2 separate regions of the Homo sapiens genome follow, and region 1 is linked to region 2. The links come from fine-mapping of genetic effects on gene expression. A gene starts in region 2. The other region holds a variant in brackets. All regions are shown on one strand. Distances are from middle to middle.

The links.
Region 1: its variant is fine-mapped to the expression of EML4 in whole blood (TOPMed, PIP 0.99).

The regions. Positions count from the first base shown.
Region 1 is chr2:42,276,239-42,289,282 of GRCh38, reverse strand. EML4 (EMAP like 4) reads right to left here. Exons shown (of 23, transcript NM_019063.5): 7 at 8,310-8,433; 8 at 6,311-6,460; 9 at 4,580-4,649; 10 at 2,904-3,014; 11 at 961-1,056. Among named protein-coding and RNA genes, the nearest start is that of COX7A2L, 78 kb to the left of the region's middle. The variant T/A (reference allele first, on the strand shown) is at 5,771.
Region 2 is chr2:42,164,038-42,177,081 of GRCh38, reverse strand. EML4 (EMAP like 4) reads right to left here and starts at 7,729. Exons shown (of 23, transcript NM_019063.5): 1 at 7,446-7,729. The coding sequence starts at 7,470. EML4-AS1 (EML4 antisense RNA 1) reads left to right here and starts at 6,851. Exons shown (of 4, transcript NR_110584.1): 1 at 6,851-7,112. RefSeq lists silencers at 7,718-7,777, 7,878-7,927 and enhancers at 7,343-7,995, 8,008-8,147.

The DNA.
Region 1 (13,044 bases), 110 kb before region 2:
ACCTTACTATGAAGAATCAAAATTGATATATTTCATTTTCATGCAACTTCCCTATGTTTCAATGTTAAATTACTCTGAATAACTGGAAGTCAATCTATATCTTCATTTATGTTTTTTAAAGTTTGAGGTTTTCTGACAACTTATATTCCTTTTAAGTACAATCAAATCTACTTCTTTCAAAATGTTAAGTTAAACATCACATCATCTTTCTGCCCAACAAGCTAAAAGCTTGAAGCTTACTCAAAACAAAACTGTTAAGAGAGGAGTTGGAGAGTAATGTGATGTTATTTAAGAGTATGGCAAATATTACACAGACTTTTTAAAGCCATTCTATCACTTTGAATCTTTTTAAATGCCTGTCAGAGGGAGAAGTCCATTTCTGGCTCATATAAACCCAGCTTCAATGCATTTTACATTCTTCTCTTACAACGTACAGCTTGATCTACACAGAGATCAACCCTTGTACTGTAAAGAGTTATAATGCAATTATAGCAATTATAAATGCTATTGAATTTTCTAAAATAATCCTACAAACACAATTAAGACCAAAAAACTTAACATAAGCCCTTCAGTTACATCAGTCGTATTCCTACTGAATTTTTCCTCTAGATTTCTAAAGCTTTAAAGATGGAATGAAATTACATGTTTTATTAAAGAAGAAAACCAAGAAGTGTGTTCAGTCTTAATTATGAGATCACACATCCATCTACTCTGGCATTTCAGGACTATAGTAATGTCTGAAATATTGAAATTGCTTCAAGTTGCTTGACTATTTTATCTTGTATAACTATAGTGTTAATATCTTAACGATTATGACAAATCACTAAATTTGCTGAATTTGGCTAGTAGATCTGCTTTTGCGACTTACGAATAGATAGTTCTAATACCAATATAGTTCCAAATACCTGCAAAACAAGTAACGTACTCTAAAACACAATACTCGGTTTTTTAAAAATTTACCTTTATTTCTGCTCCTTTTGCTTTCTTCTGCCAGTCCCATACAGTAAGCATATGCTCATTGGAGTCATCAATAATACATAAATGAACACCTGAATCCTAAAGAAAAGTCAATCAGAGGCATTTTAAAATTCACTGATAGGGCTAACATTCTAAGAAAGAAATACCATCTTATTAAAACTGCAAATAGTAAGATAACCCAAAATCCTTTAAACTCATCGCTCTCTGAAACATAATGAATACACTATTTACTACAATTGTATTTTCCTCAAAAATATAAAGATTCTTTTACAAAATATTCTATTTAAATCCCCTCATCCCTCCAGGTTATTTCCACTTGCCATCTAGTCACTCCTATTATTCAGAGATAGTGACTAATTTTGAGGCTATCCTAGTCCCTTCTGCATCTTATGCTTCCTTCTTGCTGCCTGTATTAAGCTATTTTTCCTTGTGGTAGGTAAGAAGAAATGTACACAATTTCATAACTTTGTTCCTCACTAAATTTTGACAGTTTGACAGAATAAGCTAAAATTCATGGCTATTTTAGAGTTTGCTGATTTCAGTTTTCTGTGAGATACCTGACTTACATTAACTTGAATAAACAACCTAAGTAAAATTATAATGAAATTCCTTTTTTATAATGAAATTTCCTGTTTTTCTGAAACCATTCTCATTCACGTATTTTAAGTATTCCAGTTTAAGAAAAATACCTATAGATGATATTAAATGCTTTTTAAAAATAGTATCATTTGTGAAATATGCTTTACAATGTTATGGAACAGAGAAACATTGTAGTGAAGAGTGAGAGGCACTGAGGAAGGGCAGAGCTTACTCTCTTCTCCTCTTTATCTCTTAGCCTAAATTGGAATATTATCTGAATTAGAAAAGATAGAGTTATGAGGCAATTCAAGATGGTCTTAACACCGTAACAATGGTTATCAACAACCTGACAACAGTTCCTGCTATAGAGATTTATGGGAGAAAATAAAGTAGCAAAAGTATTGCCTTTATGACCTCTTATCTCCTTTTCTAAATGTCCTTCTCCCAATTCCTGACTTGTTGGACCCTTGACATTCAGTGCCTTCAAGCTAGCAAAGTTCCTAAATTCACTAAAATTTATCTTTCTGCTCTAAAAGTGTCCTTTCCTCCATGTCCCACAAAACTCCCATAATCCAGAATACAGTTGCCAATGGCTAAGAACTGAAGAGATAATATGAATATATAACTGAGGTCACATAAAATCTACAGGGGTATTTATCTTTGAAACTAAAAAAGTATGTATCCTAAAATATAGAAGGTTGACTGTATACTTTATAATCATAATTACATACAATTCAAGAAAAAACCAGAATGTTTAAATGAGTAAGATCTTGTCTTATTTTACCCTTAGAATAAAGCCTCAACACTTAGAAAGGACTGCTGGGGAAAATTTTAAACCCATGTTGTCATCAATTCAAAACCAAGATAATTCAGGACTTCAGGAAATACAAAGGTCTGATTGTTTCTGCTGCTCAAATATGACATCAAGAAAAGCCAATATTTGTACAGAACTGGCCAAGTTTGCTGTGAATTTTTAAAATAAAATAGATCTTTTCTATGATTCAAGGTAAGGCAAAAATGCATCCTATTGCTTGTCTGAAATTGTACTATGCTTTGTATATATTCCTCTAACCACTTCCTGCTACTACATGGGAGCTCTACCTCAAGGCAGCATAATTCCAAGAATAATTAAAGTAAAATATCTTGCATCCTAACTAAACCAAAGTACTTTAGGACTTAGGTCAAAATGCTAGCCATTTAGCAATAGCTAATATGTTAGCAATAGCTAGCATCTCATTTTTCAACTCAGGATTATCACTTCATGGCCACATAAACACAAAACTGAGCTTAACTTCTTTCCTGCTTTTTTGTTCAGCTTGCTTACTTCTCTAAAAATTGTTACTTACTGCTTTTGAAAAATCCAGGCATCCTACTCCACGCTCAAAAGTGCCAAGTCCAATAATCTGCAGTGTGGATAGAGTAACAGAATCCCACACTCTGACGTGGGGTTGTAGAGGCTGCAAAAACACAAGACAGCAGAGCAACTGGACAGGTGGATGCAAATAAACACCAATAGCACACAGAACTAATGCCATTTAAAAAAGTAATAGGGATGGATAAGCTTCTAATAAATTACTAGATTTAGACATGCCTCCAAATGAATCTTAAGTAGGTATTTTCTTATACTGTGAAAATAAGAAAATAGCAGCAAATAACTTGTGTATTTACTATGTTACACATACTATTCTAAGTATTACACATATTAATTCATTTAATCCTATGCACTACAGGTACACTATTATAATTATCATTTAACAGATGAAGAAATTGGAATACAGAGATTTAAATAACTTGCCCAAAGTGATACCGCTATTAAAAGGTTGAGTCGGCCAGGCACGGGGGCCCACACCGGTAATCCTAGCACTTTGGGAGGCCGAGGCGGGCGGATCATGAGGTCAGGAGATTAAGACCATCCTGGCTAACAAGAGTGAAAACCCATCTCTATTAAAAATATAAAAAATTAGCCAGGCATGGTAGTACGCGCCTGTAGTCACAGCTACTCAGGAGGCTGAGGCAGGTGAATTGCTTGAACCTGGGAGACACAGGTTGCAGTGAGCCAATATTGTGCCACTGCACTCCAGCCTGGGAGACAGAGCAAGACTCCGTCTCAAAAAAAAAAAGAAAAAAAGAAAAAAAAAAGGTGGAGTCAGGATTCTAATCCAGGCAAATCTGCTCCGGATACTTTTGCTTTTAGTATTACTAATCTTCATTCCTGAGAAAATAACACATTTTATCAATGTCCAATAAACTGCTAAACAGCCCTTAAATAGCATTTGAAACTGGAAGGGGTCTTAGAAGTTATCCAGTAGAAACCTTCTACTCCTTTTCTTTAAAGAAACTGAAGCCTGAGAATGTCATGAGTATAGTCATACATACGTTACTCAGTCACCATTAATAGTCACTGTTGATCCTTAGAAATAAGGTATTTGTTATACAAACCAACTGAATAATATTAAATAGTAACTGTAACTCTTTAAGTTGTATCAGTTCTAGTCACACATAAAATCAAGAGTTAGCCGGGCATGGTGGCACACACCTGTAGTCCAGCTACTCACTCAAGAGGCCAAGGCTGGAGGATCACTTGAGCCCAGGAGTTTGAGCCCAGCCTGGGCAACGAAGTGAGATTCCACCCCTATAATTAATTAATTAATTAATTAAGAAAGTAAATAAGAATCAACAGGTTCATCAACTAAGGGAAACTGCAGTACCTTCCCGCAGACACTGGTTACTTTATATGTTATTTTATATAAAGAAAATGTAACGAGCGTATCAGTTTTCCCATTTTTACAGTAAATAGCTTCTTAAGGGAGAACACTTATTTTTTAAAAACAAAATTTATTAGTATGACTCTGTCTTTTAAAGTGTTCTTATATCCTAATGTTTTTTCCATGCTTATACTAGAAATTCCTCAGTACTTAAATTTTAAAAGAATAAAACAAATGAGTTGTGGTTAAAATTACAATAGATTCCACTCTAACAGCAATGTCTCTAGGTACAGAAGGCATAACACTATGCCACTCACCCTTCCATCTTTATCCACGCCAGCTATCTGTCCAGTTGCAATCCTAATTTTGTCAGGATGTATAGCAAGGCTAAAAAGCAGTATTAAGAATGATTTTAAACACAGGAAACATGAAACAACAGAATACCTTTGTACTGACATTTTTCAAATAAGCAGTTTTTAATCGTTAAAAAACATACGTTTATCTGTTTTCTTCAGCAAATCAAACAATCATCAAATATCTGAAGATTTCTGAATTTTCAGCTGTACTTTTTACTTGTTAAGCTGCACAGATTAATGAAACACTAAGTTCAAAGAAAATATTTATAACTGTGGCATGCTAACGAACTGTTTTCATTTGCTGAAGTTCCTTTCTAGTCCACGCACAATGGCATACAAATCACACGACTTTATTATAGTGAAGATGCAATATTGTGCTGTTTAATTTTAATCTATTAAAGTACAAGCATTTTTTCCTTTTGCTACATAATCCTCATACATGCTGACTTGACAACTCTTCCATCTTTTAGGCCATTTCTTACTTTTCAACAAAAGAAAACAGCAATGAGCATCTTCACACATAGTGCTTTCAATCTTTTAATTAGTTCTTAGCGCTAAATTCTTGTAAGTCAAACTGAGGCAAGGAATTTTTAAATAGAAATGGGAAGTAGCGTAGCATATGTGCCTAAATTACTCACAGCACGTATATGAGTGACTAGCAAATTTCTGAAAAAGACATCTTTATGTCCATATCTAGACTCTTTCAACAACGGTTGTACACTGTGAACATTCTCTTGCTCTTAAATATTTGTACTTAAGAACACATCAGAGGGATATTTACATATTAATACATAAAGTGCTTCCTCATTCTTTACAGCTACATGGTGACCTATAGGTACACTACAACCTCACCAGTAGTCCCCAACTGAAAAATACTTAGGCTGTTTCTAATCTTCATCACAAACAATGCTGCAGTAAATAGTTTTGTACATACATTATTCTGCAAGTGTAAAAGGCAATATTTTAATCAACTCCAAAAGTTCAATATCTATATAATATTATAATAGTCATCTATTAATTTTTTTCTGGATAAAGATACAGGTGCCAGCATAGTACAGACATAAAAGCTTTTAAATGTTGGAAAACATCCAGTCAGTCCTTGGATCTAAGTGGGGAAAAGGGTAATAAATAAAAAATAAAAGTTGGAAAATA[T/A]TAATAAACAATAAATAATTGCATTTAACTAAAAAGTAACAAAATAATTTAAAAGCATTTAAAAGGAGTTCTCACATTTGTAGTATGACATCCTACGGCATACTTATGATCCTTATTCAGCTAGATTTCTTTCTTCCCAAAAGAATAAAGCTTCAAGTATAAAATTTATCTACATAGGACAAATCCTCAATAAATATCGAGTAACCAATAATCACTTTCAGAAACCTGAAAATGTCCAGTCTGTCCCATATATGTTTCACACTACAGACCAGAGAAGAGAAGGACTGTACGACATGAGAAAGCAGAAGAGGTTCCAATCATGATTTATGGAGGATGTGTTTTGTTGCTGCTGATACCACACCACCATTTTGGAGGCCGAAAGTCCTTTTTTTCTTTTTAAAATATATTCAACAGATGACCCATAATATTTTTACATTCTGAGCTTTCCACAAGAAATCACTTTCAATAAAACCCAAATTTAAAAAATACAAAATGAGGGCCTGAAAGAACAAAAATGAACCAATGTTAAATGATACCAACCATTTCACACAGTCTGTATGGCCCAGGTAGTGTCGCTGAGTTCTCTCCTCATAATTAAATAGTACTACTACTGATGCAATGAAATAAACTATTTTCCCGGTCGGAAGAAGGTAAACATTAGCTCTACAGTCCTTTCCTCGATAACCATATCTTAACAGAAAAAGAGTCAAGGTTTTAAATAAACACAGTTTTCAAGTTGTTAACAGATTTTTCATGGATACTTAAGGAATTAGGAAGGTACAATGAAGAAGACTGAACTAGAACTAGAAAACTCATGTCCTGGACGGGCAGAGTGCTCACACGTGTAATCCTAGCCCTTCAGGAGGCCAAGGTGGGAGGATCACTTCAGTCCAGGAGTTTGAGAGTAGTGCGGGCAATAGTGAGACCCCATCTCGACAGAAAATAAAAAAAATTAGCCAGGCATGGTGGCCTGTGCCTGTAGTTCCAGCTACTTGGGAGTCTGAGGTGGGAGAATCACTTGAGCCCAGGAGGTCAGGTCAAGGCTACAGTGAGCAGTGATCGTGCCACTGCACTCCAGCCTGGGCCACAGAGACCCTGTTGCCGCCCACCCCCACCCCTCCACCAAAAAAAAGGAAAACTCATATCCTGCCATTATCCCTAGCGTAACCTGACTCTTTCAGTATGTTAAGATCTTAGTTTCCTCATTTACCAGACAAATATGTATTGAAATCCTAATGTGTATCAGGCATAATGGTGAACATTCAGTTCTGAACAAAAAAAATGTAGGCCCTATGTCTCTAGAGCTTATCCTCTGGCAAAGAAAAAAAAAAATCACCAAATATAAAATTACAAATCGTGGGGGGGTAAAAAAAAGACTGCTAGGAGAAAGCCCAAATGGAGGACCTAATTTAGATGGAGAGAAAAAGAGAGAGAAGGGAGGGACCAAAAGAAGGCCTATCTGGAAAAGGGATATTTATGCTGGACCTAAATGATAAATAAGTAATAGCAAGGAACAGTTTGGTAGGCAGAATGTTTGTTAAAAATATGTTGTACAGAATGAAAGGATTGGTGAGTGTGTCCAAGCTGATATCTGCCTAAGAAGGGAATAATTCAAGGGACGTGGGAGGAAGTGCAGGAGAATGGAGGCAGACAACAGAGTTCAAACTACCAACTCCTTCTGTTTCACTGAGTTTCTTGGAGGTTCTAAAAGAAGTGAAAATTTCTAGGTGAAATTAGGAAAGCTCTCCTTTAACAGTCATTTAAAAAAAAGTCTGGCTGAAAAGTTAATTCTGAATTAGAATCAGCCTTGTTAATTTGAGGTTACAAAATGCTTAACTGATGTTTTCTTATTTAATTCCTACAACAGCCCCTGTGAGGTATGGGTTATTAATTAACCCCTTTTATAAGTAAAGAAAGTTAAGGTTCACGGAGAGTAAGTGGCAGGGCCAAAACTCAAACACTAGTCTTCCAGTTCCAGTCTAGTGCCTTTTCTAGCAAGTACTTGCCATGATGTTCAAAAAATATTGTTTATCCTTTCCAAAGATATAAACTTTGATGGCTTTAAATTGCTAACAGCAAAGAATTAGAGATAATGTCTCCTTTTTTTTTTTTTTTCTTTTGAGACAGAGTTTTCCCCGGTCGCCCAGGCTGGAGTCCAATGGCGTGATCTTGGCTCACTGCAACCTCCGCCTCCCGGGTTCAAGTGATTCTCCTGCCTCAGCCTCCCGAGTAGCTGGGATTACAGGCATGCACCACCACACCTGGCTAATTTTTTGTATCTTTAGTAGAGATGGGGTTTCACAATGTTGACTAGGCTGGTCTTGAACTACTGACTTTGTGATCCGCCTGCCTCGGCCTCCCAAAGTGCTAGGATTACCAGCGTGAACCACCGCGCCTGGCCTGATGTTTCCTTTTTAATTTTTTAAGTAGCTGTTACTTTTTTTTTTTGTATAAAGACAATTTTGACAGAGAATACGTTAACTGATTTGTTAACTAGAGACAAAGCAAATGAATTTGCTGTCATGGTAGAGAAGGATACGCCCACTCCAGTTTGAGCTTCTCAGGAGGCAGTTCCGTTCTGATGTCATCATAGTTGTCAACATCGGAAGGAATGAACATGGTAATTGGCCGACCGCGCATAAACATTTTAATATATTCTCCTTCTGTTGAAACACAAGACAAAAGTTAAGTCATACGTATTTTCTGTATAGTCATACAAAAGTGGATTATTAACGTGATACAATAAAAACAAGACAAAAATGACTACTTCAAAGTTTTAGTCTCATTATATACAATTGTTTTTGTTATATAGTTGTCCTGTATCCACGGGGGACTGATTTTAGGAACACCTTCCTCAGATACCCAAATCCATGGATGCTCAATTTCCTGATACAAAATGGCATAGTATTCACATATAACCTGTATATTTTGAATCATCTCTAGATTACTCATAATATGATGTGAATGCTATGTAAATAGTTGTTGTATTGTTTAGAAAATAATGACAAAAGTCTGCATATATTCAGTATAACAGACAATTTTTTTCCCCAAATATTTTCAACCCATGGTTGGCTGAATCTGTGGATGTAGAACCCATGGATACAGAGGGCCAACTACATTACACAGCATACAGAAAACAAAGTGATACTATAAAGTCCTAGTCTAAAACATTGTAGGGAAAAATAAACCAATGGCCATTTCCTTAACTGAGAATAATTTTTTGATAATTAAAATATAATTTATCTAAGTTGACACATTTCTACAAGAAGTCCAGGAAGGCTGAGTAGAAAAATGCTAAAGAAAATTTTGTGACAGCAGTTTTTCTAACACTTGAAAAGAAGAGTGAGATTATTTGGATAGACAACAACCATGTCTACCACGCTACTGGATGAACCTACAGATGTTAAACGGCATAACTTTTTCTTATGCCAGGAAACAATCAACAATAAAAAGGCCACCTACAGAACGGGAGAAAATATTTGCAAGCCATATATCTAATAAAGGGTTAATCTCAAAAATATATAAGGAACTCAATAGTTAAATAACAGATTTTAAAATGGACTAAGGACATCTTTTCTTTTGTAGTCTCTCCAAAGACATAAAAATGGCCAACAGGTATACAAAAAACTGTTCAACATCACTAATCATCAGAGAAATGCAGATCACAATCACAATGAAATATTACCTTATACCTGTCGGATGGCTATTAATAATAATAATAATAATAATAAAAAAAGACAGCCGGGCGCGGTGGCTCACGCCTGTAATTCCAGCACTTTGGGAGGCTGAGATGGGCAGATCATGAGGTCAGGAGATTGAGACCATCGTGGCTAACACGGTGAAACCCCGTCTCTACTACAAATATGAAAAAATAAAAAATAAAAAAAATTAGCCAGGCATGATGGCGGGCACCTGTAGTCCCAGCTACTTGGGAGGCTGAGGCAGGAGAATGGCGTGAACCTGGGAGGTGGAGCTTGCAGTGAGCCAAGATCGCGCCACTGCACTCCAGCCTGGGTGACAGAGCAAGACTGCGTCTCAAAAAAAAAAAAAAGACGGCAAGTGTTGATGAGGATGTGGAGAAACTGGGACCCTTGTACACTGCTGGTAGGAATGCAAAATGGTATAGTCGCTATGGAAAGCAGGATGAAGGTTCCTCAAAAAGTTAAAAACACAACTACCATATGATGCTGCAATCCCACTACTGGGTATTTTCTAGAAGAACTGAAATTAGGATCTTGAGGAGATATCAGTATTCTCAGGTTCACAGCAGCACTATTCACAATAGCCAAGATGTGGAAACAACCTAAACTCAACTGAATAAGGAAAATGTGGCATGCACATATATATATACACACACACACATCTTGCAATAATAAAAAACAAAAACATGACCTCAAGATTTCAAATATAATACCCTGAGATTTTCAAGACAGTGCTAAGAAACAGTTTCCTTATTGGCAGCATAGGTATCTTATATTTACATAAACCAATAGGTGTTTATAAGATCTGCGACAGTCTAAAACTAAAACGTTAAAAAACACAAGTCTAGAATCAAATCAATACATTTTTTTTTTTTCCAAGAGAGTTTCGCTCTTGTTGCCCAGGCTAGAGTGCAATGGTGCCATCTTGGCTCACTGTAACTTCCACCTCCCGGGTTCAAGTGATTCTCCTGCCTCAGCCTCCCGAGTAGCTGGGATTATAGGCATGTGCCACCATGCCTTGCTAATTTTTTTGTATTTTTAGTAGAGATGGGGTTTCACCATGTTGGTCAGGCTGATCTTGAACTCATGACCTCAGGTGATCTAACCACCTCAGCTTCTCAAAGTGCTGAGATTACAGGCGTGAACCACCATGCCTGGGCAATATTACACATCTTTTACAAAAGAAAATACTTCACTCAACTGATGGATTTTTTTTTTTTTTTTTTTTTTTTTTTTTTGAGATGGAGTCCCGCTCTGTCACCCAGGCTGGAGTGCAGTCGCATGAGCTCGGCTCACCGCAACCTCCGCCACCCGGGTTTAAGTGATTCTCCCCACTCAGCCTCCCAAGTAGCTGGGATTACAGGCATGCACCATCACAACTGGCTCATTTTTGCATTTTTAGTAGACATGTGGTTTCACCACGTTGGCCAGATTGGTCTCAAACTTCCGACTTCAAGTGATCCGCGCCCCCTCAGCCTCCCAAAGTGCTGGGATTACCTGTGTGAGCCACCGCATGCGGCCGCAATTGTTTCTTAGTCCTTTGAAAACAAAAAACCAAAAAAACCCCACCCCGACTTAACCCTGCCTCTAGCATCCCAGTGACCTACATACAACAGGTTTAATAATATTGATGGTGATTGTGAAATGGTTACAAAAGGAGCTAAAGGGGAGACAAAGACTTAGTACAAATACATGGGAAATGTCTAGCACTTGCCAACTTGTCTGGCATGATATGAAAATAGCATTAGAACCAGACTGAAAATGTGATCATCAACCAGAGGCTGATACAACCTTAGGATCTCTAATAATGACTTAAACGACCTAAGGAGAAGAGTATGTAATAATGCAGTAGTTTATATGATGCAAACCATGAAGAGGAAGGAAAGATTAATTACTTCTTGAATGTCTGCAAGTATTTCTTCAGTCAGATTAAAAGGTTTGCTTGGGCTGGGCATGGTGGCTCATGCCTGTAATCCCAGCACTTTGGGAGGCCGAGGCAGACAGATCACGAGGTCAGGAGTTTGAGACCAGCCTGGCCAACACGGTGAAACCCCGTCTCTACTAAAAATACAAAATTTAGCTGGGTGTGGTGGTACATGTCTGTAATCCCAGCTACTCGGAAGGCTGAGGCAGGAGAATTGCTTGAACCTGGGAGGCGGGGGTTGCAGTGAGCCGAGATCACGCCACTGCACTCCAGCCTGGCGACAGAGTGAGACTCCGTCTCAAAAAAAAAAAAAAAAAGGTTGTGCTTGTTATGGGTGAGAAGTTCAAGTTATTTTTATTATTATTACTCAGTGTAGTTGGCCTCAGAGTTTGATCTAAGAACAGGCTAAGGCCTCCCACACTATGGTTTCAACATCACATGATGTACGTCTTCATTACTTCTGAATCTAAGAGTGGGCTCTGCTTCCTGATGATTTTTAGCATAGCTGAAATTTGATAAGAAAATGACCAGCTGTAAATATTCCCTACTTCTGCAGTCATCCTGATCTGTATTTCCTTGTCCTTATTTGTATAGTTTACTCTTTTAAGTGTCAACTTGTTATATAATTTTTCCTCTAGTTTTTAAGATTACAAACTTTCTGAAGGCAGATATCTCATCCTTTGGAATTTATTCCAGGATCTTTTATCAGAGGTGTACATCATAAATACTTTCTGAATAAAAAAGACATTTAATAGATGCTTCTATCACCACTTAGAAAGGAGTGTAGGTATAGCAAAGGGGGAGGGTTAGTGATAGTATCAAGGAAGAAAAAAAAATGCTCTCCTTTTTGAACAGGCACAGCTCAGAACACCATATTGGGTATCAAGTGTCAAGCAGCCTAAGAAACCAAGTAGAAAAGCAAAGGCATGATGTAGTGCTTCTAACTTTTCTGATATGATATAAAAATGGCAATGCATATTAGGATGACAATGCTTTCACTATCTATAAATTGGTCATATATGTTGGAGATCAAGTATATAACCTAAGCACTTCAAACAATTTCTGGCAATACATTATAGTGAAAACAGCATGAGCTTTGGAAAAGATTACGACTTGAATCTTAGCTTCACGCTTTGTTAACTGCAAGACTGGCTTCGTTTTCTCAATACATAAAGTGATAATACTACCTACTGTTTGGAATTATAAGTGATTAAATAAGACATCACACTGTAAAGCATAATATGAGGTTATTGACATATTTATCCTTTTGCCTTTGAAAGGGATTTATGACCACTCTAAACACTGTTTAGCAATTGTTTATGATTTAGTACACTATAGTATCTTTTCATAAGCTTTAAAGTGACTGTCCGCAGAACAGCAAGTAAGCAAACTAGAATTCTGCTGAGTCTATTATGTACACTTTAAAACAACACAAATTCATTTGCAGGAAATGAAAATGAGAGAAGTGGGAGAGTACATGATGACTGAGGGTGGGGACACTGTATTCGAATACCCCATACCCCATCTCAGCGAGGGAGCAGCAAGGCCACTCCATGAAGAATGTGGACCTAGTGGTACTAGGTCTTCTTATTTTTCAAAAGAAATAGAAAATCTATAATTTATTGTGAAACCTGCCAATTTTAAAATGT
Region 2 (13,044 bases):
GCATGGTACCTGCAATCCCCCAGCACTCTGGGAGGCCTCAGCGGGCAGATCACTTGAGGTCAGGAGTTTGAGACAGGCCTGGCCAACATGGTGAAACCCGTCTCTACTAAAAATACAAAAATTAGCTGGGTGTGGTGGCATACACCTGTAACACCACCTAGTCGGAAGGCTGAGGCAGGAGAATTCCTTGAACCCAGGAGGCAGAGGTTGCAGTGAGCTGAGATCATACCACTGCACTCCAGCCTGGGCGACAAAGCAAAACTCTGTCTCATAAAAAAATAAATAAATAAAAATAAAACCAATTTGGCTCAGGGAAATAAGACATAACAATTGTAAGATCTGTAATAATTACTTTCACCTTATAACTATTGGAATAAACATTCTGCAATAAGTACCCCAAGAGTGGTCCTATCAAGTGTTCACGGAAGAATACTTTGGGCTGGGAATGAAAAGAAGTAAACATTTTTAGAAAGGAAATAATATTTGAGTTGAGCCTTGAAGGGTACTGAGAATAGTCATCAGGATGAAAAGATGAAAATGTGAGGAATAAGAAATAGGTCATTTTGGTCAGAACATGGTAAGACAGTAGAAAGAGATGACAGAGGACTTGAGAAGATGTTAAGAGGCTAAGATGTTTGAATGTAGTCATTAAAGCAATGAAGCAATCTGAGAGGGTGAATAGCACAATCAAAGCATGGCTTTAGGAAGATAAATCTGAGGGCCCTGTACAAAATAAACTGGACAGGTGGAGATTCTCGACGCCATGCAATAATCCACGCATCGAATAATAAGTACCTGAACTATAGCGGTGGAAAAGAAAAGGGATGAGAAAAGGTGACAAGAATTGACAAGTCTTAGAAGAGATTCTAATGCCCTAGGCAAAAATGGCAAAGAATCAAAACATGATTCTGAAATTTCAAACTGGGTGATACAGTCAGTGGGAAATAAGGAAAAGAAGCTGATTCAGGAGAGAAGTTCAGATTCAGGTATGTACCTGAGGGTTATAAAGAGTCAGTATTGGAGTAGAGAAAAGACCACTGGACTCCATCAGAAAAATCTGAGTTCAAGTGGGAAAAAAAAAAAAAGGTTAGGATCCAACGAAAAAAACAGAATGCAAAATTATGTCTGCAGTATGATTTTAACTATTAAAAAACTAAGCATAGGAAAAGACTAAGAACAAGTACATTAACATGTTAACATCAGCTGCATACAAATGGGCTAAAGATAATTTATTTTTCTATTCTTCTTTCCTTTCTATGGTGTTTTATTTAAAAATAATATGATGCTGGGCATGGTGACTCACACCTCTAATCCCAGCACTTTGGGAGGCTGAGGTGGATGGATCACTTGAGGACAGCAGTTCAAGACCAGCTTGGCCAATATGGCAAAACCTCTTCTCTATTAAAAATACAAAAATTAGCTGGGTGCGGTGGTGCACACCTGTCATCTCAGCTACTCGGGAGGCTGAGGCACAAGAATCGCTTGAATCCAGGAGGCAGAAGTTGCAGTGAGCCAAGACTGTGCCACTGTACTCCAGCCTGGGCGACAGAAACTCTGTCTCAAAAAAACAAAATAAAATAAAATAAAAATAATATAGATACAAACACTCCCAACCATACAAAAAAAGAAAAAACCTGGACTTAACCTTTTAAAAAAATAACACACTCTTGGCCAGGTGCGGTGGCTCACGTCTGTAATGCCAGCACTTTGGAAGGCCGAGGCAGGCGAATAACAAGGTCAGGCGATCACAACCATCCTGGCTAACACAGTGAAACCCCATCTCTACTAAAAATACAAAAAATTAGCCAGGTGTGGTGGTGAGTGCCTGTAGTCCCAGCTACTCGGGAGGCTTGAGGCAGGAGAATAGCTTGAACACGGGAGGCAGAGGCTGCAGTGAGCCAACATGGTGCCACTGCACTCCAGCCTGGGCAATAGAGCAAGACTCCGTCTCAAAAACAAACAAACAAACAAAAACACGGCCAGGCACGGTGGCTCACACCTGTAAGGGAGGCCAAGGTGGGTGGATCACACAAGGTCAGGAGTTCAAGACCAGCCTGGCCAAGATGGTGAAACCCCGTCTCTACTAAAAATACAAAAATTAGCCAGACATGCTGGCGGGCACCTGTAATCCCAGCTACTAGGGAGGCTGAGGCAGATAACTGCCTAAACCCGGGAGGCGGAGGCTGCAGTGAGCCGAGATCGCGCCATTGCACTCCAGCCTGGGCAACAGAGCAAGACTCTGTCTCAAAAAACAAACAAACAAAAAAAAACCACTTTCTAGACCTTTTTCACCTATAAAAGTATAATAATTTATCTCCCAAGGTTAGTATGCAAATTAAATGAGATAAAAGCTCTTTGTAAACTGTAAATAAGGAATGCTTTAAAATAATATTTAAAAATCATATACAGCATGCAAAATTAAGGTATTATAAAAGCCTAAGACAGCTAAAGGACAAGAGATCATATACCGACATACAAATATACTACAGGGTCAGGCACAGTGGCTCACACCTGTAATCCCAGAACTTTGGGAGGCCAAGGTGCGTGGCCATCACCCGAGGTCAGGGGTTTGAGACCAGCCTGGCCAACATAGTGAAAACCTGTCTCTACTAAAAATACAAAAATTAGCCAGGTGTGGTGGTACACAACTGTAATCCCAGCTACTCAGGAGGCTGAGGCAGGAGAATCGCTTGAACCCAGGAGGCAGAGGTTGCAGTGAGCTGAGATCGTGCCATTGTACTCCAGCCTGGGAGACAGAGCAAGACTCCGTCAGACACACACACACAAAGAAATATACTATAGATTTGGGAATCTTCCACACTGAGGTAATACTAGATGAAGTAGATTCTTTCCCTAAACTTTTTACAAGTATTAGAATCTATTTTAAAAATCAAAATATTTTTCTAAAATTTCTTATGAATATTGAAGTTTTACATGTTACAGAAATGGACTCCCACATACAAAATACAGTATTTTGCTACATGTTATTCCAACTTACACATAAGACAGAAAAAGACTCCCTAGAATTTAAACTGCTAAATTATTTCATTGTTTTAAAAAGCCAAGCTCTGCAGAGATAAATCTAGCAATCAACAAATGTTCTCTCAGAAGTTACTTGCTTGAAACATAGCACAGCATTCTAAATGGTGCTTCCTCCCTTCATCCCCATTTCTGGTACTTAGGCTTAATAATAAACATCTCTACATACAGTACATACTTTATTTATTTATTTATTTTTTAGAGGCAGAGGTTTGCTCTGTGGCCCAGTGGAGTGCAGTGGTACAATCATAGCTCACTGCAACCTTCAACTCCTGTGCTCAAGTGATCCTCCTGCCTCAGCCTCCCAAGTAGCTGGGGTTACAGGCACATGCCACTATGCCTATTTTTGTTTTTTTTGCAGAGACAGGGTCTTGCTATGTTGCCCAGGCTGGTCTCAAACTACTGGGCTCAATCGATCCTTCCACCTCAGCCTCCCAAAGTGCTGGGACTACAGGCGTGAGCCACTGCACCTAGTCATGGTACTTATTTAAAAACCAGGCAGTAAGCTCCTAAAGGGCAAAAAGCATGTCTTTTACTTGTCTTTCCCATAAGAACCACCAAGCATAGTGCTAGCCCATGTTCGATGTTAATCCATACATATGTTGAAAAACACTCTAGCTAACTCATGTTGAAGATGCTCTACTAACCATTTAAGAGTTACTACTCATGTCTGGTTACACAACTTGAGTCTATCTTGAACTCTTCAAGAGGCAACCAATAAAAAAAGTTTAAAAAAAAAACCTCTCCAAATATTACATGAAAAACATTTTCATGTAAATAAGGAATGCTTTAGATTAATATGTGAAAATCATATACAGCATTGTTCCTTTAAGAAAGCAAGACTATTATCTGTGATGAGAAATCACAGTTCTAACAATGTGATGTTAAAAAGACTAATTTCTGAATAGTCCATAAGTTGAAGCATACTGCTATACTTGTTCACATTTACAACCTGTACCCAGAATGTTGTTTCTTATAGATCCTAATCCAACAATTTCATTCACTATGATTTTTCTTAGGGGGAAGAAGATTTTAAGTTTTGTTGTTTAACTTTTGAGGCAGAAAAATTTAAAGCTGACTGGTTAGGTATAAGGTTTCTTTCAAGTGAAAACAGACTAATCTCTAGGTTAATTCCAAGATAAAAGTCTTAAAATTAAACCTCTATTATGAAAGAGATTCTAAAAAGATTAAGCATGAAATGCACCCAATCCCTGCCTTATAAAAAATCGGTAAAAGCTGTATGAATAGCTTCCCACTTTTGCACATAGACCTGAGATTTAATATACATACAGTATATACATTTTGCACATGGGTATCTATATGTAGTGATTTAGAGGCAACACATCAAGGTAATTGAGTACTTTTCTCTCCTAAGTTTAAAAAAAAAAAGGTTTCTAAAGTGCTGCCTTAAGTTACCATAATTTGTGGATTAAAAGATATATTAATAATACCTAAGGGAAATTCCAGAGTACAAGCACCTGCCAGCCAAGTTGCCTGAAATTCATCAGCTGCGGAGATTAAAAGAATTCTTCACTTGTTTTTTATGTAAAACAAAGATAACATAATCAGTACCATGTAACTTCAATGTGGCATTTATAAAATGGCCAATCACTTATCATTCCTATGATTTAAAAAACCACTACCTAGTCTTAATTGCCATTAGACATCTTATAAAATGCACATAACACAGTGGATTTCTTATCTAAACATGCAACAATCAAGGGTACAGTTTGAATTTTAAGTTTTCACTTCACAAAATGAGTCACCATAGGATTCTCTGAAATAATCTCTTCTCTAAAATTATTCTGTTTATAAAGTACTCAATTTTTCTGCTTATAAAAATGTAGTTTTTTCACCATTTTTCAAGAATCTATCTAATATGTAAAAGGAAATACACACATACTTCCTTGAGAATAAATGCTTTCAATAGTTGTAACCCCAGAAGAACTTCACGTTTTGACTTCTTGTTTAAAAAAAAAAAAAGTTTTTAAACACCTACTAGAGTAGAAGTGCTTGCCTTTATATTCATGGCTCTCCTGATGGTAAAATAAAGATCAATGTAACTCTAAGCTCTAGGCTAATTAACTGCAGAGAACAGAAACAAGCAATTTGGCAAGAGCTGAGCAAAGCTCCGCTTAAAGACTACCAGTAAAATATACCAGCACTACTCCTCCCCCACCCCTTTAAGGTTTCAATTAAGATGGGGCCTAGTTTTACTCTTGCAAGGGGGACAGAAAGAGAAAGCACAGAGCTCCCACTGAGAAGTATCTTCATCAAGAACAGCTCCAGAAATACTGCCAGGAACCATTTCCTTCCCTCTCTGCAGATGCAGGTTCCTCTGATAGGCATATCTCCTCTGCTCCTGATTAACACCATATCTAAAGGAAAGTCTCATCACATACCACCCAAAGCATGGCATCAAATGAATTTTTTAAATCCAACATTAGGGTCAACAATGACGCTCTTTATGAAAAGTGTGAGCCCCAACTGCAATTCATCTTCATCTCTCGGTCTTTTGTATCACTTGCCTCATAAACTGGTTAAGAAAGAAGAAAGCTATTACAAAGCATAATCAATGTTTGAAAATAAACATTAAGTGCCCCAACTGGTGAGAAAGACTCCTCCTAAACACTTACAGAAGATGAAGCTTTAACAAGCCCTCCAGAAATCTTTAGAGCCAACACGAAAGAAGTTAAAGTGATCTCACCACTCCTACAGGATGAGGACCCAATACAGTATAAAGATAGCACAGCTCTCCACAACATCCCCTAAGAAGACACTCAATTTTTACTTTAGTATAAGATCAGCCCTTCAGCGGACATATAGGACAAGTTTTTCGGTCCAACACTTACTGTGAATAAACCAACGCATGGAGCTAAAAAAGAACCAGGGAAAAATGGATGTCTCTCTAAAAAGAGCCCAACCTAAGTAAGGAATTACAAGACATCAAAGGTTAGATAATGGACAACAGGTGCCTTTGAGGAGGAAAGAGTAACACAACACTCAGTTGCCTCCTATTTTAGGATTTCCACTCTGAAAGCAATATAACGACAATTTTTTCTGCCCAAGAAAAAGGGAAGGCCAAAATTATAGGTTTTACTATTTAATATCTATAATAGGCCCATTGCTCTTTGACTTACTTTTTTACTTTAGATTTTAAAAATCCATCTCATCTCGATATTATCTGGATATAGTACGGCCTATGGCCAGACTGCTCACTGATCAGTGAACATTAACCAAGTAGAGACTTATTATCAAGAAATGTAAAAGAAAGGCGTCTGAATACAAGCTACCTGCACATAAAAAACTCAAAATACAGTTCCAGCAGTAGGTATCACACAACTGCGTTATCAGCCAAAGCTGAAACTGTTTCTCTCACCATTCTAACAGTTGAACTTAATCTTTTACTAGATTTCAATGGCCTCGAAGAATAGTAATTCCAGATTCAGCTTCTAGGGCAGCGAATACTAGCCTGGAGTTTTGATTTTCCTAGCCAGAAGATTACCTTCATCTGGTGAAAGGAACACTGAAAAGGCACTTCAGCCTATTTAATAACCTCTTCCCTTTCTCCATTCCACAAAGACAACATCTTCCAAAAATGGAGAATCCTTTCCTTCCCTGATAGAGGCCCCCTTTCCTATTGATTCATTGGGCAGAATCACTTCTCCCCAGCATGTATGCAGAACCAGAAAACACTTCTGCTTTCACTCTTAAAGAGGGTCCCCCAACACAGATGCACCTCTTCCTTTCCTGCATTAAGCAAATGATGCTCCGATGCTTCTAGGTCTCTCCACCACTGCAAAATGCTCAGAGAAGTGGAGGGATTGAAAAGGAAGTTGCCTACTACTCTGAAGGATACTGGAAAGTCGCCTTCAAATCTAAAGTGAAGACTTGGGGGCGGGGGATGCCCCCTTCCTGAAGAGGGAATGAGGGTCCCTCCCCTAAAAAGGAGCCTCTGTTCGGGTGAAGGCGATCCCCACCCTGAAAGAGAGGCGTGTATGTGGAAAGGTGGTGGAAGGTTGTACCCTGAAGAGGAGCCTGGATTTGAAGAAATGTCCCAACTCTGAAGGGGGGTAAGTGGAGGGAGCCGTGAGTGTACGGGGAGGGGTGTGCCAGCTATCGGGGGGCCTGAGAAGGAAGGGGTTCCCACTTTGGGGGAACGAGGGCCCCGCACTGAAAGGGGCTCCGGGAGGAAAGGAGGGTCTGACACAGAGGAGAGTTGGACATGGGGGAGGGGCCCTCAGTCCACCGGAGTCCGCGGAGGGGCGGCAGCCTCGAAGGGAACATGTGCAGTGGAGCCGCTGCCACCCCGAGGGGCAGGCGGGAGGGCAGGGCCTGGGCTGTGTGCGGAAGGAAAAAAGTTCCTACCCTTCGCAGAAGACGCAGGACTCCCCAGCCGTACTCACCGAGACTGCCGGCGAAACCGTCCATCTTGCGGGGAAAGCGCCGGGCTCCGGGCTTAGAGGGGCGGGCACTTCATTCAGCGGACCGACAGAGTGGCCGACGCTGAGCCTGACCCGCTCGTTCTCTAGGTCGCCCGGCTCGGCTACCGGCTCCCGCCTCCGTCGTCCGTCCGTTCGCCCTGGGGTAGTAAGCCGCGGCCGCCCGAACCACTTCCCCGTCACGTTGAGAGCCGCGCCGCTCAGCCGCCTGCCCGGCCTCCCTCCCAGGCAGCAGCCGCGAGCGCCGCGCCGCGCCGCGCCCCGCCCCGCCCCCGCGCCCGCGCGCAGCAGTAGCCCCGCCCCGCGCACGCCGTCACACTTCCGACTCCGCCTCCCACGTGACGCCACGGAGGCGGGGTCTTGCCAGCCCCGCCCTCTCACCTTGCCTCGGCCTCGGCGTTTGTCCGCCTCGCGCCAGGCTGGTGGTTGCGCCTGCGCGGTAGGCCTGCTGAAGGCTGGGGACCACGGTTTGGAAGCTGGTTCCAAACAGGTGGGGATAAGGCATAGACTCTGGCCTGCGATACTCTGATGCATGAAGGATCCTCTCCCTATGTGGCCCCTGGGAAGCCCGCAGAGCCAAGACTGGACCCCCGTGACGGGAGATGACCACCACGTGGGTCCTACAAGGACACTAAAGAAGCAACCAAGAGGGAGAGGTTCTCCCTCTCCCCCAATAGGGTGGGGGACAAATAGGGGCGAAGCTTCTTGACTAGCTCGATACCACCACTGCCACAGCCGCAGGGCCCGGGACAGATCAGAAGCAAGGAATTTTAGTGCTGGACATGACCCAAAAGTTCATCTTGTCTAACCCTTCTTATGAAGAAAAACACAGAGCCTTAGAGAGGACAACCTGCCCAAGGTCATCGAACCTAGTAGAAGCAAAAACTCAGCCTTCCTTACTCTCCCTAGCGTTCTGTCGTCTAGGGGTGCAAAACGACCATATATGGCAGGCTATAGGATGGCCTGCTAGGGAACCATAATAAGGGTTATTTCAAATGAAGTAACACTGAGTTCTAGGCCCAACTCCGTATGACTCAAGAGTGTCAAATCACCTAATTTATTTAGGCGTCACTTTATTCATTTGCAAATTGGTTGTCTGGACATGTAACCAAAACATGTAAATATACATAGCGTTCATATTCTTCCTCCCTTCCCCAACACGATTTCCCATACTTCTAAAGACTTTCTCATGGTTTGTCAAGTCCCTCCTGGGGCTCAGTTGTGCAGATTAGAGTAAGAGAGAGAAGAGCTGTAAGGTACTGAAGAACTGAATTGATCTATACATAATAAATTGATAAATACATAATAAAAAGCTGAGTTAGGGGAAAACAGAGTCCTACTACACAGAGTTGCAGGAGAGAGGGACAAACAAGAAGGGAGACAAGAAATATGTAATGATGAGAGAGACTTAGAGGAATTAAATGATTGAAAGGATTGTTAAACCTTCTTGGGGTATACGTCTCCCTTTGTTGCCTCTTTAAAAATCTTCCCTAAAAATGTAAATTACTTTGCATTTCTTATTTGGATATAAGACCTGTTTCTGAATACCATACTATATGGAGACTGGCCATAACGCAGCCAAGATAAATTCAGGTTACAGACTAAACGGTGTCTAAAATTTCCTTCTCTTCAAACTTAAATGATTTACCCAATGTTCCTTCTGCTATGGGCATTTTCATATGCATAAGTTTCTATTAAGCCTAAGTAAATGTTTGAGAAGTTCTCAATTCTGACAGCTGTTCCTTTGTGTCTTCAGGCCACACTCTCTGCCTTAGGTCGATTAAAAGAATAAGAACTTGGCATATTGGTATACATATGTTTTATGGTCCAGACCTGGAAGTGTGTACCTCCCTTTTGTCCACATTCCACTGGCCAGAACTTGGTCACATGACTGCAAGGGAGGCTAGGAATGTAGTCTGTGTATCCAGAAGGAAAAGAGACATATTTTGGTAACAGCTCTCTGGTTTCTGCCACACTCCCCTTCGTGGCATTCATCAGAGTTAAAATTTTTCATTTGCTTGAATGATTTATTCAATAAGCATCTCATTCATTATACTGTATACTACAAGGAAAGCTGTTAAAATGTAGGAGAGTTAGTACATCCCAGCAGTTAAGAGTGCAGACTCTGGAATCATGCTGCCCAGATTCACATCCCAACTCATCATGTACTAGCTATGAAACACTGGACAAATTACCTAACCTCTCTGTGCCTCCATTTTATTGACTGCAAAATGGAGATGATAACACTTCTACTTCTTAGAGTTTTTGAGAGGATGCTATGAGGTAATATATGTAAAGCACTTAAAACAGGGCACAATATGTTATAAGTGCTCAGTAGGTATTAGCTGCTCTTATTTTGTACCTGTTTTTGCTCTCTATTATATACTTAGTGCATATTACAGAACAGCTTTTTGATAAATATTTATTGAATAATGAACAAACATAGAAGAATTCTGAAAACTAGTCAATCTGAATACATTGTTTCAACAACCAGTGCCTGAGTGTTTTAAAGCAGCCAGAATTTTTGTTTTATATTTATCAAAGTACATCTTGCAATCTAAGCCTCTAATACTACTATGATAAAATAAAATTTAACATACATCTTTCAAAAGTGAAACCATAGCTGAACATTATCAAACACACACACAAATACTAAGGTTCTAAACAGTTACGAATTACTGGAGGGTTATTTTGGTTATTCACCTTAACAAAGGATTTATCTTTAGATTATTTTCAATGTGGAGTTCCATTGCCCCTTTGAGCTCCTTAAGTATAACTTAATTCAGGCAAATGCAAAATATGTGCCGTTTTTCAGGATCCCAGTTATTGGAAAAGGCTAAATATAGCTGTATCAAATAATGAAAACTTAGAACATTCCCTTTATGGTTTTGGTTTTTGAAACAGGGTCTCACTCTGTTGCCCAGGCTGGAGTGCAGTGGCACGATCTCAGCTCACGGCAACCTCCGCTTCCCCGGGTTCAAGCAATTAGCATGCCTCAGCCTCCCAAGTAGCTGGGATTACAGTTGTGCACCACCATGCCCAGCTAATTTTTGTATTTTTAGTAGAGACAGGGTTTGGCCATGTTGCCCAGGCTGGTCTCGAACTCCTCACCTCAAGTGATTCGCCTAGCCTTGGCCTCCTGAAGTGCTGGGATTACAGGCTTCAGCCACCATGCCTGGCCAGAACATTCTCTTTATACATCGAATCTTGACTCTGCATACTTACCTTCCCCTCTATGTCAAGGTTAGTATGTTGTGGGAGGAGTTTCAGAATACTTGTGAAGATACATTGTCAAAGTCTTGACCTAACGTTTGAAGAAAAATAAGATTCCTATTCAATTTCTTTGTTTTACTCTCACTAGCTAGATGATCTTGAAAAGTAACTATAAACTGTTTTTGTCTGCTTGCTTTTCTCTCCCGCAGACATTTTAAAATAAATGCCAAGGAAAATTAAGGGTTTTTTTTAAGTATGCTGTGTCTTCAGTTCCTTTTATTTCATTATTTGAATGTTATTTAAAAAATGAAACCCTATAGTCATGGAACTATATAGATTGTATAAACCTGTAGTCCATGTAAGCACAAATTTGATAGAAAAAAATCAGAGTTAATACCTGAGTGGGGGAAAAAAGGGATTCTTCATTTTTATAATATGTTTAATGTAAGCAGTGTGTAAAAGAATTCCAAAATCTATAAGAAGCTAAATGGCAATGTTATTCTAGCTTCTAACCATAAAGAATGCCTAGGGAGAACTTCAAAATTATTGCAAGAGAAATAAAAGGAGTTTGAGAGGAGATACCCCAAAGTGTCAAAAGTAGCTGCCTCTGAGAAATGAAATTAAGTGGAAGAAGGAAAGGGTAGAGGAGAGATATGGGGGATTTCACTTTTATTTTATTTTAATCATAGAAGTATTCATTTTTTGAAAACATTAAAATGCAAAAACAAAAAATATATTTCACTGCATATTTAGACACTCATAAACTGTGTCTGTAGAGACTGGTTTAAAATATCATACTTATTTAATAACTGTTTTACCAATCTTGGCATGATGGTTATCTCTCTCGTAAGACTTTCCAGACTTGCTGACTTCAGGAAAGAATCAAGCAATTAGTAGTGCTGTAAATTCTTGGTGAGAACTTATGAGACTGAAATCTATCCTGTGGGGATCACAAGCCATACCTCACTTGGAGGACCTGCTGCATAGATGCATGAGTGAGTGAACGAATGCCTATTGAGGTTAATTTTGGCATTTCTCATGGTGCCATCCATGACCTACAGAAAGAAGACAACTAGCCTTGCCTGCAGAGCTAAGTTTTCCCAATGCTAATTCAGAATTTATGCCATGAAATGAGATTTGAACTTGTTGAGATTGTGGAACAAACTTTAAAGTTTCTTTTTATGTGTTATAGCTTTACTACATTTACTGGATGTTGCGCAAGCCTTAGAGATAATAGCTAATAATTTTCATGTGTCCATCATAAATGTAAAATTTTTCTCCATGAAGAGTTCATAACAATCCCTTACAAAATTGATATTCTGCAGGGAAATACTTTTAAATAGAAATATTAGAGTGGAAAGCAGCCAATCAAGGAAATTCAATTCTCAAAATTAATAACACAGGAAGTTCTCTACTTGCAAATAAAATATTTCCAAAAGGTCATTTGTAAGTCAGCAGTTTGAAATTAGTAATAATGCCATAATTGGTGGTTAGATTGCCACTTAGCCCCAAAAACATGTAGCATGCTGATCCTAACCTGCCTGCGTTAAACCACACTGATGACAGCCTTACTTAAGGTTTTGAACCAGACAGGTCTGAAATTGAATATTGCCTATTATAAGCATCTGTGGGTTGATGTTGCAACCTAAATACAACATATAATACCGTTTCAACTTTCAAAGTTCTGACTTATGAAGGTCCTTAAGTGGTAGGTTTCATTATCCCCATTTTTCAGACAGGGAAAATGAGCCTCAAGAGTATAAAACTATAAAATGGGAAAATCAAGTTTTGAACCCATATCCATCTACATCTGAAAATCAAACTCTTCGCTGCACCAGTTTGCCTTTTGGGCTCAATGGGATTCTGTTGTGGAGATCCTTGAACACCAGACTGAGACGCCTATCAACAATGCAGTTTTAGCAGCAAAGTGATATGATCAAAGCATTGCTTTAGGAAGATTAAACCGGGTGGACACATTGGAAGAGGCACTGGAAGTGGGGAATCCAATTAGGAGACTTGCAGTGAAGCAGTAGCTGCAGAAAGCGCCAAGAAAAAAAAAATCTTGTGAAGGAAAACATGAATTAACAACAAACAAAACCCTCGCAGAGCTGGGTGGACTGATTGCCTCAGAAGCTAAGGAAGAGGAGGGAGTAAAACAGGTTATCCAGGTTCAGCTCCCAGTGATGGAGAGAATAATGGCAGCATTATATTAAAATGGGAACTTAAAGAAATGATGTGACTGGAGAAAAGAAAATACAGTGATGAATTAACCTTTGTGGGAAGCTGAAGGGAATCAGAGGTCATCTTTGACAGCTGGGGCCCAGGCACATGACCTAGGCCAAGTGAATGC